Linked DNA regions of Homo sapiens. The protein of the gene in region 1 interacts with the protein of each later gene in a biochemical or structural test. Each region holds a gene or a part of one and is shown on either strand. Other genes may lie near its edges. The genes, in order: EIF4E2, ARIH1 and ARIH2.

Region 1 (7,108 bases):
AGGCTTAGAGGGCAGAGTGGTTGGTTAGTTCCACTCTCAGGTAATAAAAGCACCAGATATAGGTCCATTAGGGTTCCCATTTACTGTCTTAGAAAGGAGCCCTAAGTGGTCCAGGGATCACAGGAGCATTGTTTCTTCTCTGACAATTATTTTTGTTTCCTGGTAGTGATCAGCAGCAAACCACTAAAAAGAAAGGAAGGTATATACTTTTCTTGGGTCTAGCAAAAACAAGATGCTGGGATGACTGTACCCCTCTTCAACCAAGATCTAAATGCAAGGGACCCCAGAGGCTATAGTGGGAGTTGGAAGCTAAGAAGGGAGGAAAAGGGTTTGCATCCCAAGGGTGTGCCCTGAAGAAGAGAGTTGTCCTGGGCCTAAGCAGAAGAACCTTTGAGATGTTTTTGATCAGGAGACAGAACTGGCCATGAGAGTATAGCTGGAACAAGTACAAACATTTATATGGGCAAGTTCAGAAGAGGAGACCCCAACTCAGCCTAGGTTGGAAGAGGTTAGGAAATGTTGCCAAGAGAAAGTGGCCCTCAATCTGAGTCCTGTAGGACAAGTTAACTAGGCAAAGAAGGACTTCTTGAGGAGAGACCACATGATGAGCATAACAGAAGGATAAAATGGGGGCACCAAAATTAGGGTGATACAACTGGAGTGAAAAGAGTTTGTTGGGACCAGGAAGGAGATGATATTGGGACATGTGAGCAGAGCAGGGGCCTTTGCACCATGCTGAGGCGTGGGTATATCTGTGTACCTTTTCTCCTCAGCTAGGTTCTTGGGGACAAGCACTCTGGTAGCTCATACACACCATAGATGCTTGGTAGATGTTGGTAATTTTTAATCTGTAGATCTTGTGTGCTAGACAGGCTCCTTTTGAAAAGGAAACCAAATGTTTAATAAAGGGGAAGTTTAATAAAGGGGAAGGGAATATCATAAGTACAGATGATGGTCTCCTGGAAGTCCAGGGAGGCTGAATAAAACCAGAGAGATGTTAGCATTAGCAACAAAATGAAACTCCCCTCCATTTTCTCTGCTCATCTGCTCCATTCTCTTATCTCATACTGGCTTTCTCTGCTTTTGCTCATTGTCTTAATTCTCTCAGGGCTTTTCTTGCATGGGGCCCATATGGCTGCCCCAGCTCCTGAGTCTATGATCTTTCATCTCCTGGATGAAATGCTGAGGGGAGGAATCTGCTCATATTTTTGAGCAAGGCTCTGGGGCATAGGTTATTGCCCAGGCTGGACTACCCTTTGGTCAGGTGCACTTCCTAGTTGTGTCTTGACCAGGGTAGGGATGGGAAGGTTCATGGCACAGGGCATAACCTCCTGGGTATATCCTACAGCTAGGGCTGTGAAATGGGCAGAGCAGGCACCCCAACATGTGACTAGCTCATTCATTCTAATATTTATTGGATACTTTTAATGTACTAGGCACTGGGGATTCGTGGGCAAAAAAAACCAGACCACAAATACAAAGTACCCTGCAACATGTTTATGTGTCAGCATAGGGTAGTATCTGAATTATAACTGGAGCATTTCTAGTACCATTCTTGAGAACTGCCTAATTTCGTTTGACCACACATATAGTTATTGGGGCGAGAAAGATGATTGGAGAGAAGATCTGTGATGAATTAATGGTCCAGCCCTAAAATAAATGGCTTTCTTATTGTCTTTGCAAACTCACCTTCCATTTATCTTTTTGTCTGGATCCGGTGATTTTAGGTGTACCTGAAAGCCTTGGGGTAGTTTCACTGCTCATGAAAGGGTAATCCCTAAAGTTCGTTTGACTCTGTGCTTATGAAGCAAGAACACATTTATTCTTTCTTTCAGTCATTTATTTTTCCTTTTGGTTTACCATTTATTCAGCATCTTCTAGTGCCGCATGTTAAGGCAACATCTTGCCCTGGGTGCTGGAGATACCGAGATGAAATAAGACACTGCTCTAAGGGAACTCTCTCTCTAGTAGGGAAAGCAGACATGGGAGGAATGGTGTGACAGACCGAAGGGGTGGTGTTTGCAAATGGCACCGATACGGCAACATAGATTGCTAGAGGAGGAGGATCCTGGCTGGCAGGAGTCAGATTCTAGAGGATCTTACATTTTGCTGTACTTTATCTTAGAGGGTAGGCATCAAAAAGCGAGGGACAGTTGAAAGTTTAAAGCATGCAAGTTAAATGTCAGATTTGCACTTAAAAAGATAATGCTAGTGAAAGGATGGATAGAGAGTGAGAGATTTGTGTCAGGAAGACCAGGAATTTATTATATGATTGACGTGTCAGGAGAAGAGGGCCTAAACTAAAGTAGTGACAGTGAGTGTAGAAGAGGTGGTAAGGAGAAGTGGCAAAGCAGATAGTACGTTTTTAACCTTCATTTGAAATGCCATAGCATTAGAGACTCTTCTCATTTTTTACTCCATTTTTGGCAGGGAAAACAATCCCTTAAACTGTATACCTTAAACATTCCCTTTAACTGGTTCTTTGTGTGGCTTTTTAGAAAACTGAAAGACAGTGCTTTGTGGAGTTCACAAGTTAGCTGATGGGTGTTTCGTTTTTGTTTAATCCTAATTTGCCTGTCTGTGTTATTTTGCCCTTCTTACATCTCAGGGCCTGAATTTGAGTGACTTTGGGTTGGTTACATAGTAGTTCGTATGACCTGGTGGCTTTGTTAGGTAAGCAAGAATTGACTTCGTCACAGAATTGTATTGTGTTGCCTTTCCATTCAGTTTGAAAGATGATGACAGTGGGGACCATGATCAGAATGAAGAAAACAGCACACAGAAAGATGGTGAGAAGGAAAAAACGGAACGAGACAAGAATCAGAGCAGTAGCAAGAGAAAGGTGAGTGTTGGCTGCACAGATGTAGTTGCCTTTGAACTTGAGACTTTTATTATCTTGTGGAATCTGTTTATCTGGAAGATACCAGATTAACTTGATGGCATCCTGTGTTGGAATATCTGACTTTGTTCTCAGAAAAACATTGTGCAATCATTGATGTTCATTTTCAGACCTAGAACTTTTCTCTTGCCACAGAATCTTGAGATGCTGCCTTGCTTTCAACGTTCTCCTAGCCTGAGATGGAGATTAGTCCTGGAGCTTAACAAGGCTGTTAGCTGCTTCATAAGCCACTGCTGAGTGTTTCAAATCCTACATACCCCTTGAAATTGTAGACAGTTTAGTCAGCAATAGTCTAAGGTGAAAGTGACTTGGAAAAGGGAAAACTTAGGGAATGAGAGAGAGAGAGAGATCAATTTTTTCCTTGAAATATCAAAGCAGGCTGGGTGCCATGGCTCATGCCTGTAATCCTAGCACTTTGGAAGGCCAAGGTGGGTGGATCACTAGGTCAAGAGATCGAGACCATCCTGGCCAACATGGTAAAACCCCATCTCTACTAAAAATACAAAAATTAGCTGGATGCTGTGGCGCGTGCCTGAAGTCCCAGCTACTGGGGAGGCTGAGGCAGGAGAATCGCTTGAACCCAGGAGGCAGAGGTTGCAGTGAGCCGAGGTCGCGCCACTGCACTCCAGCCTGGCAACAGAGTGAGACTCCGTTTCAAAAAAACAAACAAAGAAATATCAAAGCAATCACTAATTCATTTATTCTACAATATTGAGTAACCCTCCAAGGGTTACTAGCATTTTATGCTAGATGCTAAGAGGACACAAAGGTGAATGAGACTGTGGAAGGGGCTTACGTTTAATAGTACCAATAATAATACTGACATCTGTTGTGCACGTACTCTGTGCCAGGCACTGTGCTCAGCATTGTATATCCACTGATTCATTTGATCCTCTCAGCAGTATTGTGAGATGGTTGTTACAATTTTCCTCATTTTGCAGGTAAGAAGATGAGGCACAAACAGGTTAAGTAACTTGACAGTGATGAATCTCATAGAGGAGGCAGTGCTTGGACTGGGCATATGCTGAGATAAGATACAAAGATGAATACCTATTATATGAGGGAGAAAGTTACAAAGGCCATAAGAACACAGGTAAAGTGTTTCAGGAATTTAGAATCAGTTAACCACTGAGGAAATGTACTGTGTAAGCAGAATCTTTGGCACATTGCAGATAGTTGAGGTTGTATATCCTTTTTTAATTGTGGAGGTGGTAAGGATTGACACTGCAAAATGTTCTCTCAGTCTCAGACCACGTGACAAATGCCCAGGACTAACACACCTTCTTTACTTCCCAGGCTGTTGTCCCTGGACCGGCAGAGCATCCCCTGCAGTACAACTACACTTTTTGGTACTCCAGGAGAACCCCCGGCCGTCCCACGAGCTCACAGAGCTATGAACAGAATATCAAACAGATTGGCACCTTTGCCTCTGTGAGTTCTTGGTGAATTAATGGAGTGTGCCTTGATAGTTCGTTCATGCCTGTATTGATATGATGTTTATTTACTTTCCTAGTAACCTATTTAAGATTCTGGTTTTCTTAATTGACTGACCTGAGTCTCCGGAGTCAGATTTGTTCATTCTTAGGTTTCTCACTAGATATCCATGGTTAGCATGTAGGTATCAACAAATATGAGAATTGTAGAGTTGATCAGAAGGGCATAATACAAAAGAACAGATTTGGGTTTTTTTATTTTTATTTTTATTTTTTAATTGAGACAGAGTCTCTTGCTCTGTCTCCCAGGCTGGAATGCAGTGGTATCATCTCAGCTCATTGCAACCTCCGCTTCCTGGGTTCAAGCAATTCTTCTGCCTCAGCCTCCCAAGTAGCTGAGATTACAGGCATGTGCCACCACGCCCAGCTAATTTTTGTATTTTTAGTAGAAACGGGGTTCCACCATGTTGGCCAGGCTGGTCTGGAACTCCTGACCTTAGGTAATCCACCCGCCTTGGCCTCCCAAAAGGCTGGATTACAGGAGTGAGCCGCTGCACCTGGCCCTGTTTTTTTTTTTGTTTGTTTTGTTTGCTTGTTTGTTTTTTTTTTTAAGTATATATTTATGGAGTCCTTACTAAGTTCAAAGTGTCATGGATACAGAAGTTTATAATACATGGTGTCTATCTTCATGAAGTTTGACAGTAAAGTGAAAAATTTTGAAAGTTTTGTATTTAAGAACCTCCCATTAGGGTTTTGGCTGTATTAATGATTATGCATAAAATATCTTTTTCCTGTGTTCAGAAAGAAAATGAAATCTCTAATAATTGCTTTTGTGGGTACTGGCAGTCAGAGAGCCCAGACTGTCTCATCTCTCTCCCAGGTGACTTGGTTTGTGTACCCCAAGAATCCATCTGCAACTAACACCACTCTAGTTGAACAAAGGTTATTATGTACCCAGTGTGTGCTGTACATTCAATCTCTGGGCAGAATCAAATGTGGGGTTTGTCATTTTCTTGAAATTGGTGAAGTATTAGTCCTGTTTAAAATGCAGAAACTACGGGGGAGCGGGGAGGGATAGCATTGGGAGATATACCTAATGCTAGATGACGAGTTAGTGGGTGCAGCGCACCAGCATGGCACATGTATACATATGTAACTAACCTGCACAATGTGCACATGTACCCTAAAACTTAAAGTATAAAAAAAAAAAAAAGAATGATTCAGTGTAGTTGTATGCTAGATATATTATATGGAATTATCAGCAGTTTACCAGTTGGTTCTTTATTAGTACTCCTGATGTCTTAAACAAAAATGAATAATTGTTTATCTTTTCTCAAAGTGTCTCATCTGTTCAGTAACAATCACGGTTTTCTCCAACAGTCTTGCATATTACTTTTTTTTAAAGTGCTTTGGTTTGAAAAAAATAAAAAAATAAAATAAAATGCAGAAACTAGAAAAGAATACTCCAGTAGGAAATACTACAACAAACTGCTAAGGAGGAAGGACATATAATACATACTTTATTTGTATAATTTCCTTCCAACATTATGATAGCCCTATGAGGTCAGTGATATTATCCATGTTTTACAAATGAGGAAAGTAAAACTTGGGTTAAGTGTCTGATCTAAAGTCTCAAGTTATGGTGGGGCACGGTGGCTCATGCCTGTAATCCCACCACTTGGGGAGGCTGAGGTGGGAAGATTGTTTGAGCCCAGGAGTTTGAGACCAGCCTAGGCAACGTGATGAGACCCTGCCTCTACAAAAAAAGTTTAAAATTAGCTGGCTTGGAGAAAACGGGAGCATTAAAAAAAAAAAAAAAAAAAGGCTGGCCATGTTGGCATGCACCTGTGGTCCCAACTACTCAGGAGGCTGAGGCAGGAGGATCAGTTGAGCCTAGGAGGTTAAGACTACAGTGAGCCTTTTTTGTGCCACTGCACTCTAGCCTGGGCAACAGAGATAGATCCTGTCTAAAAAAATTTTTAAATTCTCGAGTCAGTCATAATTCACTGGATTAAGTCGAGGAGCCAGTATAATTGAAACTCAGGTACAGAAGCTTCCAGATAGCTGAACACATGGAGGTGCCTGGAGGGTGGTGCGCCTAGAGGGGACATAGAAGCTCCCTGAACCTTCCTCCATACCTTCCCCCATACCTTGCCCTACGCATCTCTTCATCGTATCCTTTGTTTATAATAAACCAGTAATGTAAGGTACCAAGACAATAACCGGGGAAAGAATCGTCTTTTCAACAAACATTGCTGAGACAACTGGATTTCCAGGTGCAGAAGAATGAATTTGCATTCCTTCCTGACACCATACACAAAAAGTAACTAAAAATGGATCATAGACCTAAATGTAAGAGCTAAAATTATAAAATTCTTAGAAGAAAATATTAGTAAATCCTAATGACCTTAGGTTAGGCAAAGCCTTCTTAAGTAACACACTAAACGCACAAGCAGCAAAAGATTAAATACTTGGCTGGGCGTGGTGGCTCACGCCTGTAATCCTTGTACTTTGGGAGGCCAAGGCAGGAGGATGACTTGATCTCAAGAGTTTGAGACCAGCCTGGGCAACATAGTGAGACCCCATCTGTATAGGATTTCATCAAAATTCAAAACTTTTCTGCTTCAAAGGACGCTATCAAGAAAGTGAAAAGATAGCCTACAAAATGGGAGAAAATATTGCAAATCATATCTAATACTTGTATCTAGAATACTCTTACAACTCAGTTATAATCTGCTTAATATGAAATCAACATCATTACTATGCTGAGCTGATA
Region 2 (7,434 bases), on another chromosome or scaffold:
GATATTTTATAAATGTATACGAATATTTTTTTACCTTACTAGGACTTGGGGACAATGGGAGTGCCAAATTACCAACAATGATTATCTCGGCACCAAAAAGGTATTAATTTGTGTATTTTCTTTTTCAAGAACCTTTTCCTGTTGTTGTTTAGAGACTACTGTGCTTCTAGCTAGTAATCACCATCGCTGGGAAAACAATAACACAGGCAATACCTTTAAGAACAAGTCATTAAAAAACAATACAAAATAATGTATGTGGGTCATCCCTTGGCCAATGTGGGGCCAGAGAGAAGTTGTTCTACTGGTTTTCCTTAAATAGCACCATAACCTAACCTGAATCTAAGATGGTTTCCAAAATATGTATAGAACGAATGTTAACTAATTAATTCTATAAAAATATGTATAGAATGAAAGCTAATTAACCATCAAACCATGGTTATAATGGTTTATCCATGGATAGGAGACCCAGAAATTCAGAAGCACTGTAATACTTTTCATGATATTAATAAAAAATGAAGTCATGAGATCATGGAAAAGGTTTCTGAGAAAAAAATCAGACCAATTTTCTTCCCTAGAAAATGGGGATGACACAGGCTGTGTACATATAAGCATAATTAAAATAAAACTGATTAGGCTGGGTGTGGTGGCTCACGACTATAATCCCAGCACTTTGGGTGGCCGAGGTGGGAGGATCATGAGGTCAGGAGGTCGAGACCAGCCTGCCAACATGGTAAAACCCGTCTCTACTAAAAATACAAAAATTAGCCAGGCATGGTGGTGCGTGCCTGTAGTCCCAGCTACTCAGGAGGTTGAGGTAGGAGAATTGCCTGAACCCGGGAGGCAGAGGTTGCAGTGAGCCGAAATTGCTCCACTGTGCTCCAGCCTGGGCGACAGAGTGAGACTCCGTCTCAAAACAAACAAACAAACAAATAAACAAAACTGATTAAAAGATTATAAAGGTGACTTATGACACTTTTTAAAAGCTCTGATTTTGTGAGTACTTAGCTATGTGCCAGGTACTGTGTCAAATGCTTTAAATACATAATTTCATTTGATACTCACAAATAATCCTATGAGAACAGGAATTATGATCCTCCAAAGTAAACCTCTAAAAGAGAGGCTTAGTAATTTGCTTAAGGTTACAGACAGCAACGGGGCAGGGGGGTGCATAGGCAAATTCAGATCCATCTGCTTCAATAACTTTTATCCTCTTCACCTTTATCCTATGCCGCTTCTAAACATTGCTGGTGTAAACTCTGGTAAAATTGTATCTCCAGCTCTAATTTTTCCTGACCTTCAGTCTTGTATCTTAGTTTATGGAACTGCCTACTCAACACCTCTACCCTGATGTCTAACGAGCACCTCAAATAACATGTTTCAGTGAGTGATGCCACCATTCACCCAGTCGCTCAAGCTCCAAATACAGTAGGCATCCTTGTTTCCTCCATCAAACCCACTGTCAAGCCACCAGCAAATATTTTGGCTCTTCTTTCAAATTCTATCTCAATCTGACCACTTCTTATCACCTCCACTGCCACAACCCTAGTTCAGGCTATTATCTACTTACCTGGACTACTGAGATAGCCTCATAATTGCTTTGTTTTCGTAGTCCATTCACCATAAAGCAGTCAGTTATCTTTTTAAAAACACAGATCATATAGTTTCACTCTTCTGCTTAAAACTCGTTAATAATTGCCACTGGAATAATGTAAACTTCTTAAGATGACCTACAAGGCCCCTACTGGCCCCCTACCTTGATCTGCTTTCTCTGACTTTATCCCTTAACACCCTCTTCTTTGCTCAGCATGTCTCAAGTCACATTGGTCCTGATATTTTCAAATTCCTCTGTGACTAAAAGTCACATGTTTTGAGAAGATGTGAAAGGGCAGGGCTGAAGTTTGAGGAAACTGCAAAGGTGTGAAAGAGTTGTCGAGAGTGGGAGAACAATCCAGAAAAATTTAATAGGATTGCTGGGAATTATTGAAGGTTGAGTTGTGCTTGGTGATTGAAATTAAGTAGGCTGGGTGTAGTGGCTCACACCTGTAATCCTAGCATTTTGGGAGGCCAAGGTGGGAGGATTGCTTGAGGCCAGGAGTTCCAGACCAGTCTGAGCAACATAGTGAGATGTATCTGTAAAAAAAAATAAAAAATTAGCCAGGTATGGTGGTGTGCACCTGTAGTACCAGCAACTCAGGAGGCTGAAGTGGGAGGATCACTTGAGCCCGGGACATTGAGCCTTCAGTGGTGATCGCACCACTGCATTCCAGCCTGGGTGCCAGAGCAAGAGTGTCTCCAAAAAAAAAAAAAAAAAGAAGAAATGTAGTAATAGAATACAGATGGCTATGCACATTTCTCTAATAGTGGTCAGCTGCTCCATTTATCAAAGTGGAGACTATGGATGGTAGGGTTCATTCAAGATAGGGGTACAATGAAAAGAAAGGTGAGGCAAAGGAGTTTAGGGTACTGACGAGTGTTACTGAATTTTTCTGTAGGTAATATCACAATGGAGACGGGGTGGACAGAAGTGTTCCTTGTGTCCATGGCTTGCCTTAGTTGTGGCAGCAATCTAGAATTGCTAAATAGAAACACTGAATCAAAGAACCTAGACCTGGCTGGGCGCTGTGGCTTATGCCTGTTATCACAGCACTTTGGGAGGCCGAGGCAGGTGGATCACCTGAAGTCAGGAATTCGAGACCAGCCTGGCCAATATGGTGAAACCCCATCTCTACTAAAAATACAAAAATTAGCCTGGGGTGGTGGCATGCGCCTGTAGTCCCAGCTACTCAGGAGGCTGAGACAGGAGAATCGCTTGAACCTGGGAGGCAGAGGCTGCAGTGAGCTGAGATCACCACTGTACTCCAATCTGGGCAACAGAGCGAGACTCCGTCTCAAGAAAAAAACAAACAACAACAACAACAACAAAAACCTAGACTACCAGTATTGAGGTTAAATGCTTTACTTTGTAAATCCTGAGGTTAAGAAATATAATTATCGGTATTTTAAAACTTACAAAATGGACAAATTGGAAGAGGCTTTTTAACATTATAATGGAATTTTTCACTTTTCAAAATCAATTTCCAAAGGGAACCTATAGGTTGAACAGTAAGATTTATCAACAAATCAGGGGTTTTGATTTTAAAAGGTTTTCAATCTGGCCAATTCTTCAGATTATCTCAAGAGGGAGCCTTCTTATGCCTCTTCTTCCTTCATAACACTTCTCTGGCTCGCATGTCCTGTTTGCAAAGATTTAAGCCCACTCTTAGGCATAAAATGCTCTTAACTGACATGACCCCTGACTAACTTGCCTAATATTTTGCCATGTACCCTCCATGCACTTTAAGCTCCCCAAACTATTACTTACTTGACACCTTCTGCGCTTTTGCTTGTTCTCTGCGGCTAGACCATCTTCCCTACCTTCTCTGTTGAACTCCTAGCCATTCATCAACACTCAGCTCACATAGCACACTTTCAGATGAGATTCAAGCATTATCTCTCTGGCTACATTTGGCCCTTGTAGATATTTCTATTATTGCCTGTATTTTGTTGAAGCATTCATGTCTTTTATGTACTACATAGTACATAATATATCTACATTACAAAGCATTTTTATGATTCATGTTTTGGGGCATCCAGCGGTTAAAATAGGGCAAGGGTTATGTGGTCTTGGCCAGGTCCCTTTTCCTTTCTGAGCTTCAGGTTCCTCAGGTATAAAATGGGTACTATGGCTCCGTGAAGATGAGACAGAATATATGTAAAGCCCTTACACAGTGCTCAATTCATGAAAATCATCGCTGTTTACATTGTTTAGGGCCCTCAAGAGGCGCTCTTGTCAGCGGGGTGGAGGAAATGCCTCTTTAAAATGACGTCATTATAGGAGACTTAAAAACCACTGCACGTCTGTACAAGTGGACAGAATCACACAGCTACCTAAAGTGGGTTCACCTGTCATACAGTTTAGAGGTTCCACTTACAACAGGTTTCCATCAGTAGCCAAAGCAACAGAAATTTTAGCTTAACGGCTGAGGGCTTCCGGGATTACCGCAGGGCGGGCGGGAAGCGCCTTTCCGCTCCGGAGGGAAGGCCGCGTCCCCAAGGGACTGCCTAAGTGGGCTGGATCCCTATGGCCTGCGGCAGACACCACCACGTAGGCGGTCCAGGGGTCCCTCTCTCGGTGACTGGTGACCAGGAGGCCGCAATCTCTTCACATAAAAGGTCTACGGGTTTCCGCTCGGCCCTCACAGCGGCAGCGGATCGAACCAGGAAAGCAATTCCCGCTCGGCTCCCCTCGGGTCCCAGGCCCAGGAAGGCCGGGCCGTGGGGTCTCCCCGGGCTCCACGCAGGGGCGGTGGGGCGGGGCGCAGTGACGCAAAGAGGAGTGACGCGACGACGCAGCGCGACGCGGTGACGCACGCCCCTTTGTTGGCTCAGTAGCGATAGCAGCGGCCGTGGAGGTGGCGTTGGGGACTGTTTTCTCTCGGAGGCCGGAGCGGAGCCGCGTCTGACTGAGGCGGGCAGCAAGCGGCCCCCTCGCTCCCTCCCTCCCTCCTCCGCGCCCTCCCCGCCGCCACCAGCCGTCAAACGCCAACCGCCGCTCCTGGGGAGGAGCCGCGGCTCGCGGGGCCGGAGCCAGGCCTGCGTCCGGACATCAGCCGGAGCCGGAGCGAGAGCCGGGGCCTCGGCGTCCCCGCCCTCTCCCCGCCTCGGCCAGCGTCCGCCGGGCCCCCGCGCGTCGCGCCATGGACTCGGACGAGGGCTACAACTACGAGTTCGACGAGGACGAGGAGTGCAGTGAGGAGGACAGCGGCGCCGAGGAGGAGGAGGACGAAGACGACGACGAGCCGGACGATGATACCCTGGATCTGGGCGAGGTGGAGCTGGTGGAGCCCGGGCTGGGCGTCGGCGGGGAGCGGGACGGACTGCTGTGCGGGGAGACGGGCGGTGGCGGCGGCAGCGCTCTGGGGCCCGGCGGTGGCGGCGGCGGCGGCGGCGGCGGTGGTGGTGGCGGGCCGGGGCATGAGCAGGAGGAGGATTACCGCTACGAGGTGCTCACGGCCGAGCAGATTCTACAACACATGGTGGAATGTATCCGGGAGGTCAACGAGGTCATCCAGGTGAGGGTGGCCGCCGCGCCAGCTGGACCGGGCCCGACGGGGGAGCGGATTCAGGCGGCACGCGCGGTCCCGAGGGACAGGCCTGGGCCTGGTGCGCAGCCTAGCCCGGTGCCTCCCGGCCTTGTCTTCTCCGCTGCCTCTGCTGGGGATAGAGGGTGTCGAAAGCAGAGGTTCGCCGATTAGCCGGGTGTGGGGAGGTGCGCTGGGGGCGGTGCTTCCCAAGTCCTGCTATGGCGGAGGCCTTCGGTCGCCTAAGCCTTCTCTTGCGGGCAATTTCTGCCAGTCCCTGGGCCGGGTGTCCTTTCTCTGGCCGGGCGATCGCCTACTGGGGCGGGGCGGAGGAGGTGGGGTGGAGAAGAGGAGTCAGGAAGAATTGGGCCCTGACGGGACTTACCCCGGCCGTAGCCTCATTTGAGCACTTTTGGAAGGGATTAGAGTAGGCCTAAGAGCAGCTTGGTGTACAGTTGCCCCAAGTGGGCACCAGTTAATAAAGAAATGGATCTTGGCAGTCTCAAGTGCCTACTTAAAGGTGGGGGAAGGGAAGTATTTCTCGGAAGAGGTGCTGATGGGCCTTCTTTTCAGATGGTGAGGCTTCTGCTTACATCTTTTTTATGTCTTTGCTGTTTGGGACCTAATTGCTACTTTTTCTAGTCGTAGCAGATGACTTGCTTGAAGCTGTTGGAATAGTTACTGCATATTGCATACCCTTCCTTGTAGCTAAAACAACAACAAAACGCAGTGTTGTCTAATATTGGACAAGACTCTATTGTGAGTTAGAAAGCAGAGGTTTTCTGCTTGTGAACTCCTTTCTCTGATATTTTCTATTTTGTGGTAAGTTAGGCTTGGTGTAAGTTGATAACCACATCTCATTTAACCATGTGCGTCAGATTTTGCATTTTTGAGCTTTAGAAACTCAAAAGTTTTCATTTGGGGAAAAAAAAAACCTCAGTTCTCCTGAGGAGTCAGGGATATGGCTGAAGAATAAAAATGAAGCTTGATTCAGTGCAATTTTTAGAAAACCTGGAAGGAAACATATATGAGCAGCAAGTTACTATTGCCTCTTTTATCAGTATTATTTCTTTTTTGTTTAACTTAAATTGGTTGGCTAAATATTCATTGACAAATTAGAAGTATGTCACTGTCAACTCGTTGACTTTCTATTATTAACTGATTTTTATAGTATTATAAGTAACAGTTTTAAAAATTGAAGCATCTATTCAGGCACTGTTTCAATACAGTGTTTTGCATAATAGAAAAATCTCTGATATCTAGTGCCATTACTAAATAGTGGAAGTCTTCATTTTTAATCTAGAGAACACAGTCTAAGAAGGAAGTTGAGGATTGTAGAAGATAATTTTTTGTTTGTTTGAGACGGAGTCTTGCTTTGTCGCCCAGGCTGGAGTGCAATGGCGCAATCTCTGCTCACTGCAACCTCCGCCTGCCGGGTTCATGCAATTCTCCTGCCTCGGCCTCCCAAGTAGCTGGTACTACAGGCGCGCTCCACCATGCTCAGCTAATTTTTTGTATTTTTAGTAGAGACGGGTTTCACCATGCTGGCCAGGCTGGTTTCGAACTCCTGACCTTGTGATCCGCCTGCCTCGGCCTCCCAAAGCGCTGGATTACAGGCGTCAGCCACCGTGCCCGGCCTGTAGAAGATGCACATGTAAGAAAAATCTGATTAGGTAAGAAAAAATAAAAAGACAAAACAAGCCTGCCACCCAGAGACGTACAACAAAATGCGAACTGTAGTTATTTTTCTAGACCTTTGGATAGCCATTAATATGGTTCCACGTTAATAACAGTGGAACCATACTGTATGTTCTGTTTGTGTTTTCAGTGGAAAAACATTACAGAAATACTCTGAACAACCTTCTGTCAAGTAAATTTTTCGAGAACTTATATGATTATAGATCTGAACTAATTTATTTAATCAATCTGTTATTTGCCTTCCTTTTTATTTTCTAGTTTCTGGCTTTTATAAATATTGAAAATATCCTCATAGGTCAGTCTTTGAGTGTTCTTATTTTCTTGGGATAAAGTGAATTGCTGAGTCAAAAGAATTTGCTCATTTTCAATGCATTTGATACATACTACCACATTGCTTTCAGAAAAGTTATGCTAGTTTTCCCAACCAGTGTTTGATGGGCAAAAAAAACCTGGTGAGATTGAATTTATGTTTATTGGGCTTGGTATTTCTTTTTTAAATTGCCCCTCGCTTTTTGCTCATTTTATTCTCTTTTGCCCATTGCCCCTCTTTGGGATATTTATCTCTTACTGGTTTGTAAGACTTCTTTCTATTAATAGAGGTTGGAAATAGCAGTTA
Region 3 (7,108 bases), on another chromosome or scaffold:
GTTCTTTAAAATGGTAGCAAGCACACCTAGCTAATTAAGGAGAGGGCATTGTTGCCACTATTAGGTGAAGGCTCCCAGGAGGAGAAAAATTGAACAACCTCTGGGTCTCCGGGTTTTGCTTTGGCTTCCCTAAAATGATTCAAGAGCCTCATTTTTGGGGAAGTCAGTAAGCCAAGTTATCCCTGGAGAGTGAATCCTGGGAAACAGGATTTACCATTGTCAGGGTCTGGAAGAGGCAGAATAGGCCAGATATAAAATCTAATAAGGTATTATTAGAACAATGTGTGTTCTAGACAACCAGGAGGACTTCAGACAAGTTTTGCTTCTCATAGCAGCCTTGACACAGATATAACAAGGCACATAGCCCATGTGCTCATGGAATGCAGAATATCAACAGGCCATTGTTCATCCAACAAAACTGTGGTTGGCTTCTCTCCATTAGACTGCAGTAATTCTTTGAGCATCTAACAATAATTTTTTGAACATATAGGGGATTTTTTTTTTTTTTTTTGAGACACAGTCTCGCTCTGTCACCTAGGCTGGAGTGCAGTGGTGTAATCTCGGCTCACAACCTCCGCCCTACAGGTTCAACCAGTTCTCGTGCTTCAGCCTCCCAAGTAGCTACTGGCATGTGCCACCACACCTGGCTAATTTGTGTATGTGTGTGTGTGTGTGTGTGTGTGTGTGTGTGTGTGTGTGTGTGTATATATATATATATATATTTTTTTTTTTTTTGGTAGAGACGGGTGTTTCACCATGTTGGCCAGGCTGGTCTCAAATTCCTGACCTCAGGTGATCCATCCGCCTTGGCCTCCCAGAGTGCTGGTATTACAGGTGTGAGCTACCGCAAAAGCAGAATCATAATTCTGATTATGAACCATTGGATAGCTCTAGGTTTTATAGAAATGTGTTATTTGCCAGGCGCAGTGGCTCACGCCTATAATCCCAGCACTTTGAGAGGCAGAGATGGGCGAATCACTGAACACTGGGGGTTCTCGAGACCAGCCTGGCCAACATGGTGAAACCCCATCTCTACTAAAAATACAAAAATTAGCCAGCATGTTGGCAGGCACCTGTAGTCCCAGCTACTCGGGAGGCTGAGGCAAGAGAATCGCTTGAACCTGGGATGCAGAGGTTGCAGTAAGCCAAGATCGCGCCACTGCACTCCAGCCTGGGTGACAGAGTGAGACTCTGTCTCAAAAAAAAAAAGAAAAAGAAAAATAAGAAATGTGTTTTTTAAAATAGAAGAAAAAGGGGGAAAGCCTTTATTCTTAGTTTCATATACAAAAATCTTTCTAGGACAAGTGTGAGGGTAGGAAGCAGTAGGGAGGTCAGTTTGTACTGATGATGTGCGTTTAAGACAGTCAGGTCGGCCTCAGTTGGACTAGTTCCTCCTTCTTATAGTGGCATTGACATAGCAGACCAGTAGTCTGTATGGTCAGCATCTGCCTGTGTTAGATTAATAAGGCGCATGGCACATGTGCTCATGGAATAGAAATTATCCATAGGCTTTTGTTCCTATCAGCAAGTACAGGCTACAAGGACAGTAGGATGTGACAGGGATGAGAGGTGCACATTCCTTCGGGAAAGAGGCACCCTTGGGAAGTTGTGTTCAGGTGACCCCTTTGGGAGCAGGGTCTGTCTGTCTCACTCCTCTGCCTATGGAGGAAAGTGGAGTTGTCTTGTAGATGTAAATGACTCTTCCTCTGTTCTGCACAGACTTCTGCTGGATGTGTCTAGGAGATTGGAAGACTCATGGCAGTGAATACTATGAGTGCAGTCGTTACAAGGAGAATCCTGACATCGTGAACCAGAGCCAACAAGCCCAGGCGAGGGAAGCCCTCAAGAAGTACTTATTCTACTTTGAGAGGGTAGGTGTCCTCTCCTGTACCTTCCCCTACAGGGTAGGCTTCTTCCACTTGGCCTGCTGGTGGGATTCCCAGGGACTGGTAGACAGAGCTAGCCTGTGCACATAGAAGTCAGTGAATGGAGCTCCTGCAGTATCCCTGGTGCTGCCTCTATAGATGTGCCTTTCAAGCTCTATAGGGTATATCCCCAGCCAACAGGGAAGGACCTGGTACTGACCTTGGTTGAATGATGGATTGAAGGACAATGAAGGGCCATCAGACAGTCTTTTCCATCTAGTACCATCTTTTTTTTTTTTTCTTTTTTCTACGTTTTTAATTTTTATTTATTTTTTTCTTTCTGTCCTCACAATCTGTTCCCATAGTATCATCTTAGTAGTCAGATTTGGAAGGCAGTTTCTCCCAGGGAGCCCTTTAGAAGCCCAAAGAGCCCCATGCATAATGGTCTCTAAGCATAGTAGACCATCAGGGGCCTAGCTTTGCAGAGTCCTCAGGGCTCGAGTCCTGTTGCCCCAGAAGGGTAGAGCGATCTGGCAGTAAGCATACAGCTGCTCTGGACAGGTTAGAAGGATGGACTGAAGAAGACCTGCTCTTGCACTTTGGGGAATAAGTTAGAGGAGTCTGTGGCCATGTCCTGCCAGCAAGGTGTCTATCCTGAACTCCTGTGTAGACCTCTGCACCTTCATGGGACTCCTGTGGTTTTCTTCTTCTTCTGTGCCCTGTAGTGGGAAAACCACAATAAAAGCTTGCAGCTAGAGGCACAGACATACCAGCGGATTCACGAGAAGATTCAGGAGAGGGTCATGAACAATCTGGGGACATGGATCGACTGGCAGTACCTACAGAATGCTGCCAAGCTCTTGGCCAAGGTATCTACCACTTCACTCATCTTATCCCTGGTCCAGTGCCTGGCTCCGTCAGGCACAGACCTCTGATAGTGGGAAGCTCTGTTGAAAGAGGGTATTTTAGCACCCTGTGCAGCCTTTCATGCTTCTGCTTGTGGATCCACATTTTCATGTGCTGTGCCCATTAAGGACCCAGTCCTCTGATGGATGTCCAGGGGATTTATAAGAGTGTTGCACTGCCTCTGCCTGCAGGGAAAACTAGAGCACTTTTCTTCTCCTTTTGTCCTGTTTATGTATCACTCAAAGGAAAATAAAAGATTGTCTGATCACTTGAGGTCAGGAGTTTGAGACCAGCCTGGCCAACATGGTGAAATCCTGTCTCTAATAAAAATACAAAAATTAGCTGGGCATGGTGGTGCATGCCTGTAGTTCCAGCTACTTGGGAGGCTGAGGCACGAGAATTGCTTGAACCTGGGAGTCAGAGGCTGCAGTGAGCCGAGATCACACCATTGCACTCCAGCCTGGGTGACAAAGCAAGACTGTCAAAAAAAAAAAAAAAAAAAAAAAAAAGATTGGGCAGGGTGCAGTGTCTCACGCCTATGATCCCAGCACTTCGGAAGGCCAAGGCAGGTGCATTGCTTGAGCCCAGGAGTTTGAGACCAGCCTGGGCAACATGAGAAAACCCCGTCTCTACAAAAAAAATACAAACGTTCGCCTGGTGTGGTGATGCACACCTGTAGTCCTGGCTACTTGGAAGGCTGAGGTGGGAGGATCGCTTGAGTCTGGGAGGCAGAGTTTGCAGTGAGTGGGGATTGCACCACTGCACTCCAGCCTGGGCAACAGAACAAAACCTTGTTTCAAAAAAAAAAAAAAGGTTGTCTTTGGCTAAGCATTGAGATAGATGTGTTGACTCTGATGTCCTACTCAAGAGGGAAAATCCATTGAGGCAGCTGCTGATAATCAGTTTGTAAAAGAAACTGTGGGTGTTCTGTGACCATCGTTGTTTGTTTTTTCCCTCATGTCTTTTCCCAATTCATCCTCTATTTGGCCTAGTATCATTTCTTTCAGGCCTATATCTATAGAGCTGGGCTAATTTGCATGTTGAGGGTAGGAATTGTAAGAGCCACCTGAGATGCAGGTAGCTTAGAATCACAGACACAGGTTCCTTCTCTTCTCTCCTGTTGCAGTGTCGATACACCCTGCAATACACCTACCCATATGCATATTACATGGAGTCCGGACCCAGGAAGAAGCTGGTAAGGCAAAGCAATTTTTCTACTCTGTCCCGTTAGCCTCAAAGGTGCCCTTCTCTACCAGCACTTTGCAGGAGAGTGAGGACCAGACCTTGGTCATTGGGAGGGCAAAGTTAAAACAAAACTCTAATTGCAAAATTCCACTTCTGCTCTGGGCACCTCCAAAATAGATCTCAGGTGCTATTATTTTGTGTCATATAAGGCACATGCACCTAATCCTCTGAACAACTGTATTTAAAGGGCGATTGGCTAAAAAGGTCTGTGGCCAGTGGGAGGCCAGTAGTGCCCATGCTTGGGAGGGATATTTAGCATGCATGTCCTTAAGATATATTTGACTGTTTTATACCTTGTTTAATTCTTCATCTTAGAGTTGAATTTGAATATGAATTTATTGTTATTACCAATAGTGTTAATAAACTAGTAATTAACATTTTTGTTTAAATGCTGGAAAACAGAAAAGCATTTACATTGTCCAGAGAGAAATTACCACTGTCAGCATTTTCCAGCCTTTTAAAATTAACATTGTGTATATATAATCAAGGTTATATATAACATTTTATTGTTATAACAGTTTATTGTTATAGCTGTTATGATTTACCTGCCTGGTAAATACCATTTTGTTAATGGTTGCATAAATGTGTCATTACATGATTGTACCATCACTTGGGACATTTATTCTTTCTTTCTTTCACTGCTATAAATAGGACATTGAGGAATATTTTTGTGCATAAAGCTGTATATCTTCTTAGATGTATGATTACTAAGTATTTAAGTTTGAATATTTTTAAGGCTCTTGATTTGCTGGAGGACTGAAAAAAATGAAGTGATAGTGTCTGAGAATATTCATTTGACTTATTTTTTACAGCATCCATTCCCTTTCATGTTGGGAGTGTTCTCTTTAGTGGCTTAAATTCTTTGCCTGCCTTTGGGAGTGTGGAGGGTGGAGTGGACCTTTTGAGGGTCGAGGGTGAATGTGGCCTTGCTGTTTGGATAGCCTTTTGTTTGGATTCTGGCTCTGGGCACAGGGAATAACACTACTTTCTGAGGACAGTATCAGGATTGTCTGTAGTTCCTGTGAGCCTGAGGTGCTGCATGTGCCCACCCCCGTGTACAGGCCCTGCCCCAGCCACAGCCCACTCACCTTTTGACCCTCCTGCTCTGCCTATACAGTTTGAATACCAGCAGGCTCAGCTGGAGGCTGAGATCGAAAACCTCTCATGGAAAGTGGAGCGTGCAGACAGCTATGACAGAGGGGTAAGTGCCTACTGTCCTCTTGGATTCTATATTGCAGGTAGAGGACTGGCATGGTAATAGGTGACAGCGTTGTTGGCTTGTGCACTGGTAGCTGCTGCTAAGAATGGGAAGGGCAGTGTTTTTGACTCCTTGGAGGTCCTGGAGGGTGTTTGTGGCTTTGGCTACTCCTTGCTCCCAGGCCTGGGCCATGCAAGCACACACCTTGTTTCTCTGATGCAGGACTTGGAGAACCAGATGCATATAGCGGAGCAGCGGAGGAGAACCCTGCTGAAAGATTTCCATGACACCTAAGTTGGGATGTGGATGTGCCGGGGTGAGGAAGATGTGGCTGCAAGGTCTCCCGGCTGCCATACTGCATGCTGCAGGCTCTGCCTTTCATGACCCCAGGCAACAGCCAGGGCCCCACTCCTGAGAGACACTGGCAACACCTCTTAGTTGATTTCTGTTTTCTTCTCTTTTCACTTTTTGTTTCTACCAGGGTAGAGGCCATGTTGAACTGGCCTCTTTTCAGGACTTTTATTTCCCCCTGGATGGTTGTTGGGAGGGAGGGAAAGTGTTTTCTGAATGGCTATTAATAGTATTAGATCATTACAACTTATGTAACTTTCAAAGGTTGTACAATTATACAAAAAAAAAAAAAAGGCAAACTATAGGATAACACAGAGCCCTTTTTGAAAATAAATTGGCATTGGAGTGTTTTACCCTCTAGCTGTTTTACTTAGAATGTAACATATGCTGCCTACCCACCTCAAAATGTCTGTACTGCAAGAGGGCCCTGGGCCTCTGCTTTCCATATTCACGTTTGGCCAGAGTTGTAGTCCCAAAGAAGAGCATGGGTGGCAGATGGTAGGGAATTGAACTGGCCTGTGCAATGGGCATGGAGCACAAGGGGTCACAGCATGCCTCCTGCCTTACCGTGGCAGTACGGAGACAGTCCAGAACATGGTCTTCTTGCCACGGGGTGTTGTTGTCTCTGGTGGTGCTGCATGTCTGTGGCTCACCTTTATTCTTGAAACTGAGGTTTACCTGGATCTGGCTACTGAGGCTAGAGCCCACAGCAGAATGGGGTTGGGCCTGTGGCCCCCCAAACTAGGGGGTGTGGGTTCATCACAGTGTTGCCTTTTGTCTCCTAAAGATAGGGATCTACTTTTGAAGGGAATTGTTCCTCCCAAATAAATTTGCTTTACCTTGGTCCTTTCTTTTGTGCCAGTATTCAAGTGGTATAGCTCTGAGCAGGGTCACATTTGGCCAAACCTGACACTGTCTTGCTGCATTCTCCTTTGGCAAACATCAGGGTCAGAATTCAGGATAGCCCTTCCTAGGGCACTGGACTTTCTGGCATGGGGGCTGTGTTTGCACAAGTTATTTTCATGTTACCTGGAGAGTGTCCAGAGGCTGCTCTGAGGCTGAGGTGTGTTCCCCCTTGCCTGGTTCCAGCTGTCAGAGGGATACCATCCTAGGGTCTGGGAATCCAAGGCCACGAGACTCCTTGGTTTGTGGTCCGAGATCCTGTACTAAGGAGGGTCTGGCCAGAGGAACAGACCAGCTTTTGCACAATGAAGCGCAAGGGAACAAGTGGTTTGCCTGGTGTCCTACCTGTCCTGAACCTGGTCCTGTGGGCCATTGAAAAGTTAGATCTGTGATCTCTGGGGTTTTTGTGGCTTTGTTCAATGCTTCCACTCTAGGGCAGGCAGAGCAGTCTATACTCTCCCAAGCCTGCTTGACCTCCAAGTAGAGCTGATACAGAGATCTGTGAATATTGTGATAGAAATTCTTTGGTATTCATACATTTCAGCTGCAAGTCAGCAATTTCCCAGGTACCATGTAAGCTATAAAACAGTCATTCTTAAAGACAGAGGATAGCTGTGACTCATGGGATCATGAGGTCCAT

What was found.
Region 2: the proteins of EIF4E2 (region 1) and ARIH1 form a complex in vitro, tested with the Homo sapiens proteins (one study listed by BioGRID).
Region 3: of the proteins of EIF4E2 (region 1) and ARIH2, one has a biochemical effect on the other in vitro, tested with the Homo sapiens proteins (one study listed by BioGRID).

Annotation. Positions count from the first base shown.
Region 1 is NC_000002.12:232,553,689-232,560,796, forward strand, and holds part of EIF4E2 (eukaryotic translation initiation factor 4E type 2), read left to right. Parts: intron 1-2,727; coding exon 2,728-2,842; intron 2,843-4,195; coding exon 4,196-4,330; intron 4,331-7,108. UniProt on the Homo sapiens protein: Recognizes and binds the 7-methylguanosine-containing mRNA cap during an early step in the initiation. Acts as a repressor of translation initiation.
Region 2 is NC_000015.10:72,469,904-72,477,337, forward strand, and holds the start of ARIH1 (E3 ubiquitin-protein ligase ARIH1), read left to right. Parts: upstream 1-4,426; 5' UTR 4,427-4,736; coding exon 4,737-5,111; intron 5,112-7,434. UniProt on the Homo sapiens protein: E3 ubiquitin-protein ligase, which catalyzes ubiquitination of target proteins together with ubiquitin-conjugating enzyme E2 UBE2L3.
Region 3 is NC_000003.12:48,977,763-48,984,870, forward strand, and holds part of ARIH2 (E3 ubiquitin-protein ligase ARIH2), read left to right. Parts: intron 1-1,719; coding exon 1,720-1,871; intron 1,872-2,590; coding exon 2,591-2,734; intron 2,735-3,871; coding exon of another isoform or gene 3,872-3,897; coding exon 3,898-3,966; intron 3,967-5,133; coding exon 5,134-5,217; intron 5,218-5,436; coding exon 5,437-5,508; 3' UTR 5,509-7,108.